2 linked regions of the Homo sapiens genome follow. The protein of the gene in region 2 purifies or fractionates together with the protein of the main gene of each other region. This does not show direct contact. Each region holds a gene or a part of one and is shown on either strand. Other genes may lie near its edges.

Region 1 (3,654 bases), on a different chromosome or scaffold from region 2:
GTATTTTCCCCTCTATACAAGATCCAGTCTAAAATCAGGTAGTTCATTTAGTTACCACATCTCTTAAGTCTTCTTTAGTCTGGAATGTTTCCACAGACTTTGTCTTTATAATATTAAAAAAAAAAAAAAAACCCAGCTCCCCGACGTTTTAAAAAATAGGATGTTCCCCATCTGGAGTTTAAAATTTCCTCATGATTAGATTCAGGCTATGAATTCATGGCTGAAAAACACTGTAACTGATGTGCTCTTTTCTGGGTATCACATGCAGAGACACACAAATCCATTGGTGATATTTATTTTGATCATGCACACAAGGTGTTGTCTGATTTCACCACCATATTGAGTTACTGTTTCCCCCCCTTACAAGTAATAAGCATTATATGGGGGGAAATTTAAGACCATGCAGACAACCTGCTTCTCACCAAAATATCCCCCTAGATTTAGCACCTATTGATGATTCCTGTCTAAACAAATCTTTATTATAATGGATGCAAAACAATCATATAAATTTTAAAGTTAAATAGATTTCAACTTTTGCCTACACTCCCAGATCCCTTAGGTGTAAGTGCTCAGCCCCCTCCACTTTAGAAGCGCTATAGTGCAATGGTTTGAGTGTACCAATCAGGGACAGCTTCCTGGGGAAAAAATGTATTTCAGCAAATAAGTGGGGAACCAGTCAAGACACAGACAACTCCATCAGATCAGCTTAAAAATAAAATACAGCAATATGGTAAATCCTCTTTTTTGCAGTTGTTGTTTTTGGCTCCCAGGGATCTCTCACGTGACAGGCACCACACGGGGGATACTCACCACACTACAAACAAGGAAAATCCTCTTTCTTATTTGAGACAGGGTCTCGCTGCTCGCTCTGCTGCCCAGGCTGGAGTGCAGTGGCATATCATAGCTCACTGCAGCCTCCACCTCCTGGGCTCAAGCGATCCTCTCACCTCAGCCTCTCAAGGAGCTGGGCATGCACCACCACGTTCAGCTAATTTTTGTTTGTTTTTTTTTTTTGGTAGAGACAGGGTCTCACTATGTTGCCCAGACTGGTCTTGAACTCCAGGCCTCAAGTGATATTCCTACCCTGGCCTCCCAAAGTGCTAGGATTATAGGTGTGAGCTATACCACCTGGCCTGAAAATTCTCTTTCAAAGTAAAGAATTGATTTGCAAGGTAAACATACCCTAGCCCTACCAATTTTATAAAATCACTTCTTTACATACTGAGTTTGCCTGAATTACACTGATTCTACAACTAATAAATATCTTTCTGCTGCTGCTGCTGTTAAACATATTCTAATTATATTCAGATTCTAAAAACTTGTCAAAGACATAGCCCGCAATGATTACTTCTGATTGTTCATCCACCTTTTCATGTATGTCAACCTTTCCACCTATTCTCTCAAAGATAGGGATTAGCCACTAAAAATGTATCTTTCATCTGATTGTGACCAACAGAAATTTTACACTGAAATCTAAGACAAATATATGTAACTGAAATTAAATGTTCCATGAAGCAATATCACACGAAGTACTGATATTTTACATTATCTCTTCCTCTTCTCCTCATTTTTCTAATGTTGGTCCTGACCACGACTAAACTGATTTCAAAAACCATTAACAGGTCATGCACATGACTTGTACTTGAAAATACCCTAGAATCTGGCACAGAATTCTTTATCAGATTCCCAATAAAGTCTAGAACATTTCACTTATTTCAGGTGAAATGAGAAATAAGAACATAATGAGTTTTTGTTTGTCTGTTTGCTTGTTTGAGACGGGGTCTCGCTGTGTCACCCAGGTTGGAGCCCAGTAGTGTGATCTGCGCTCACTGCAACCTCCACCTCCCAGGCTCCAGCAATCCTCCCACCTCAGCCTCTCGAGTATCTGGGACCACAGGCGTGCACCACCATGCCTGGCTAATTTTTTTGTACTTTTGGTAGAGACGGGTTCTCACCATGTTGCCCAGGCTGGTCTCAAACTCCTGAGCTCAAGTGAGCCGCCCGCCTCAGCCTCCCAAACTGTTGGGATTACAGGCGTGAGCCATATTTAATTTTCAAAGTAATTTTACAATTTTTTATTCTGAGATTGTGTATTACAATCTTTTGGTCTTCAAATGTCATTTCTTTAAAAAAAAAAAGAGGTATGAAAGTGAAGGTTGTTAAGTTGTCAACTATATACTAGTCCCTAATTTATTTCCTCCACATTTTACTGGATCATGAAATCTCCACTGCAAGACTTCAAAGACACATGAGAGTTTCAGCCTTCAATAAAACCTTCAATACAGCCTTCAAGAGGTTTATAATTTGGCTTAGGCATGGTACCTGCAATCCCCCAGCACTCTGGGAGGCCTCAGCGGGCAGATCACTTGAGGTCAGGAGTTTGAGACAGGCCTGGCCAACATGGTGAAACCCGTCTCTACTAAAAATACAAAAATTAGCTGGGTGTGGTGGCATACACCTGTAACACCACCTAGTCGGAAGGCTGAGGCAGGAGAATTCCTTGAACCCAGGAGGCAGAGGTTGCAGTGAGCTGAGATCATACCACTGCACTCCAGCCTGGGCGACAAAGCAAAACTCTGTCTCATAAAAAAATAAATAAATAAAAATAAAACCAATTTGGCTCAGGGAAATAAGACATAACAATTGTAAGATCTGTAATAATTACTTTCACCTTATAACTATTGGAATAAACATTCTGCAATAAGTACCCCAAGAGTGGTCCTATCAAGTGTTCACGGAAGAATACTTTGGGCTGGGAATGAAAAGAAGTAAACATTTTTAGAAAGGAAATAATATTTGAGTTGAGCCTTGAAGGGTACTGAGAATAGTCATCAGGATGAAAAGATGAAAATGTGAGGAATAAGAAATAGGTCATTTTGGTCAGAACATGGTAAGACAGTAGAAAGAGATGACAGAGGACTTGAGAAGATGTTAAGAGGCTAAGATGTTTGAATGTAGTCATTAAAGCAATGAAGCAATCTGAGAGGGTGAATAGCACAATCAAAGCATGGCTTTAGGAAGATAAATCTGAGGGCCCTGTACAAAATAAACTGGACAGGTGGAGATTCTCGACGCCATGCAATAATCCACGCATCGAATAATAAGTACCTGAACTATAGCGGTGGAAAAGAAAAGGGATGAGAAAAGGTGACAAGAATTGACAAGTCTTAGAAGAGATTCTAATGCCCTAGGCAAAAATGGCAAAGAATCAAAACATGATTCTGAAATTTCAAACTGGGTGATACAGTCAGTGGGAAATAAGGAAAAGAAGCTGATTCAGGAGAGAAGTTCAGATTCAGGTATGTACCTGAGGGTTATAAAGAGTCAGTATTGGAGTAGAGAAAAGACCACTGGACTCCATCAGAAAAATCTGAGTTCAAGTGGGAAAAAAAAAAAAAGGTTAGGATCCAACGAAAAAAACAGAATGCAAAATTATGTCTGCAGTATGATTTTAACTATTAAAAAACTAAGCATAGGAAAAGACTAAGAACAAGTACATTAACATGTTAACATCAGCTGCATACAAATGGGCTAAAGATAATTTATTTTTCTATTCTTCTTTCCTTTCTATGGTGTTTTATTTAAAAATAATATGATGCTGGGCATGGTGACTCACACCTCTAATCCCAGCACTTTGGGAGGCTGAGGTGGATG
Region 2 (3,654 bases):
GTGAGGTATTAGTGCAAGATTTATGACATCAAATTCCGTGACTGCTGAAACTCCAGCAACCTTTATGGGTATTTGAGAGTTTAACCTAGATTATCAAGTTTGAACATTACCTTTAGCTAGGAGCTATGCTAAATTTTTTGCATTATTTTAAATTTTGTCTTATATGGGATGTTTTTAACCATAAATGAGCACACTGGCTTCAAGTACAGCTATGCTTCACCACAAGCAATCTTAATATGCAAAATAGTGCAATTTGCAAGAGGTAAATTTTAGAAGCTAATTATTCTTCTCATAAAAGAATTTACCATGGAGTTCCTCTACAACAACAATTTCTTGTGCATTTAAAATACAATTCAGTGTGCGAAAGTTTGAATTACACATCACTTTTCAGAAACACTTTTATTATGTCTATTAAATGAGATATCCCTGGTAAGCCCTTAGCAAATGCCCAGTTGATATGTGCTCAAAAAGTGTTGCCCAGATTCATTATTATGCTAAATGGGGTCATGTGTATATTATATTTAGTAATTTTAAAACAGTTATTTCTGAATCTTTTAGAGCTAAGGATCACAAATACACGTGAGTGTAAGAGTCATCTGGTACACATTAAAATGTAAAGCCTTGGACTCCATCCTCCAAAAAATCAGATTCTGTGGTTCTGCAGTGCAGCTAGGAATCTACATTACTAATAAATCCTCCCTGATGATGATTATGAACAGCCAGAGTTGGGTATCAATACAGGGTCTGTAACATGCAGATGACATCAAGTGCTATAACTGCTAAAAACCTCAATAACCTTTATGAGCTTTTGAGAGCTTAATGTGGCTTCTTAAGATAAATATCAAAAGGGGTGATGTGCAGACTTGAATCAGCCGAATCACAACTGGCTATTTTGACTTTTGTTAGAGAAAAGGGTAGCTGAGGTTTCCCCTGGCAATGAGGAGGAACCACCTGCAGAGAGGAAGCAGACACACTCTAGGATCCACAAAGGGGTGGGCTAATTTGGGGAAATGGCAGTTGGCTATTTTTCCACTGACATCTCAGTGATCAAGGCCAGCAATACTGGAAGAAAACATGTAGTTTTTATTTCTGTCCCTAAGATTTTGGCTGCCCTATTGAATTTTGGCCCTTTTGTAAACCTGCCTCCACAATCCTCAGCCTGAAATAGAGGGTATGTCTCCATCCCTGAAAGGGAAATGTCAGCAGGAAGAACAGAAAGGTCACCTTCCTATCCCCCACCCCTTGCTAATGAGACTCATCATGAAGTTTCATTTAAAAAGTTGGAGCACATTCCCTTCAGAAGAGGAAGGTTTATTTCTTCTTCCCTTAACCACTCTCTTCTTGTCCACTGGGCCACTTATCTTTTCCTGTGCTGTAAAGGGCTTAAGAGACAATGAACCCTGGGGCTGTGCTGCTGCTGACTGTTACTCAAGGGACAATCCCCTTTCCTTATCACCAAAACCCTTAGATCATCTAAGAACAGAACTGGCTCAGGGTTTTTTTTTTTTTTCTAAAAAGTCAATTTAGGGCTGTTGATAAAGGACAGATGACATTTTCATCTCAGCCTAGACACAGTCATGGAGCTATATAATTCCTTACCCTACCAAGCTATGCATTTGTAACTTGAAGATAAAAGTTAATGGAGATGGGCGGTTGATTTTGTTTTCAAATTCAGTGCAGTTTAGAAATGTAAGTTAATCTCAAAGCACACTAAAGAATAAATCAGAGTAAATTCTGTTATTTGACATTCCCTTTACCAAAAACTACCTTTAAATGGCATTTCCACATAGCAAAGTGTGAAGATGAATGAGGATGAGTGTGAAGGCACTAAAACATCCTGAAAGGCCTTGTAAATCTGTTCTCCAAAATTAAATTATGATCTCATTTCAAAGTTAAATATATTTTATTATAATCAGTTCACTGGAGTGCAACTAGCTGAGTATGGTAAATATAGTAACCATAAAATGGCATGTTTAATCAGAACATCACATTCCCCAGATGACAGGTCATCACTTATGTGGATCCCCTACCAATATATTTCAATATATGTCTATGAGTGTGTGCGTGCACAAACATACATTAGGTTTCAACTAAAGTAACATGAAGGTTTCCCCTGGCAATGGAGAAGTTTCTAGATTGTTCCTAGGGAAATAGTTTACTTCTATTTACAACAAATATGGTATCAATGTGTTAACATTTTTAAGAGTTTGGACCTATTTCCCATTTACAATTTCGAATTGAAGAAATTTCCCCTAGATTAGGCTCTTTTACTTACCAATCCATCTTTGTCATAGGGTGAATCAAAGTTATCCAGAAATTTCCTAAATACTTGTTCCTCACTCCATTCCCCATTCTGGTACTTTGGGTGGTGTTTTGCATTATATACTTCACGAAGGTCTTCGATTGTTATAACACCATCTCCAGTCTTGTCTAACTTTCTAAAAGCTTGCATGATTACCTCTTTTCTGGCTCTGGACATTGGAGGCTACAAAAATAGAAGAATACATACAGAGACATACATAAGCAAATGAGCTTTTTTGGTATCCTATGTGATAAAATATCTCATTCCCCTCAACGATGTGAAATAATATTTGTGTGCTATTATGTAATAGACACTACAATTGCTCCAAAAATTCCTAAGTCTGTTCACAGTTTTCTGCTTATCCCCCTCCCCACAGTGTACTAACAACTTGTAAAAACAAAACCTCAAGGTAGCCAACCCAAACCACGTGAAAGCCAAACTCAGCAGATACACTGATTAATGGGGCCACTTACTCTTAATGTGAGAAGAAATTCATTGAAGTCTATTGTTCCATTTCCATCTTTATCAAACCTCCGGAAAAGTTCTTCCACCTCTTCTTTTTCCATGACCACAGCATAATCATTTAACCCTTTCATAAATTCTTTAAAATCAAGGGTTCGATTATTATCGTCATCCATAATTCTAAACACTCTGAAGAAAATACACACAAAAATTCAGAAGAAATGTACAAATAACAGGTGTAAGTGTAAAGATTAAAAAAAAATCCACACTCAAGGTTTCGTCAAATTAAAATACAAAAGTCTTAAATTCTTCTCTGCACCCTCCTTTCCAAAACTGGAGAGCCTCTTCCCACCACACACACACAAACACACACACAAAGTATAATTCTAATTACATGACATTCTGCAAAAGACAAAACTGTGGAGACAGTAAAAAGATGAAAGGTAAAGGAAAGAGTTGAATTGGTGAAACATGGGATTTTTAGGTCAAAGAAACTATCCTTTATAATACTATGATGGTGGATACATGACATTATGCATTTGCTAAAACCCATAGCACTTTACAGAGCAAGGTGTAAACCTTAATGCATATCAATTTTAAAAAAATGATTTAGGAAGTCAGAAAATCACAGTGATGTGGCTATGTTAGGGATATAGGAGCCAACTTAAATAGCTCTCAAGATCAAGGCTGGAACAATTAAACCAATAAAACTATGCTGGATTATAACCCAAAATATAAAAAAGAAATCCCTACATCCATACTGGTTAAATAAATGATAGAGTAAATAAAGATGAAGAAAATGACAAATTTCTCTTGCAGAAAAATTCCAAATAAGTTATGGATATATTCTCCTCTCAAGGAGGGAACATATACTCCCCACTCTCTAAGTG

Evidence for each region.
Region 1: the proteins of CAPSL (region 2) and EML4 purify together in Homo sapiens (affinity purification with mass spectrometry; one large-scale study listed by BioGRID and IntAct). This does not show direct contact.

Annotation. Positions count from the first base shown.
Region 1 is NC_000002.12:42,175,741-42,179,394, reverse strand, and holds part of EML4 (echinoderm microtubule-associated protein-like 4), read right to left. Parts: intron 1-3,654. UniProt on the Homo sapiens protein: Essential for the formation and stability of microtubules (MTs). Required for the organization of the mitotic spindle and for the proper attachment of kinetochores to MTs. Promotes the recruitment of NUDC to the mitotic spindle for mitotic progression.
Region 2 is NC_000005.10:35,907,591-35,911,244, forward strand, and holds part of CAPSL (calcyphosin-like protein), read right to left. Parts: intron 2,954-3,654; coding exon 2,776-2,953; intron 2,486-2,775; coding exon 2,276-2,485; intron 1-2,275.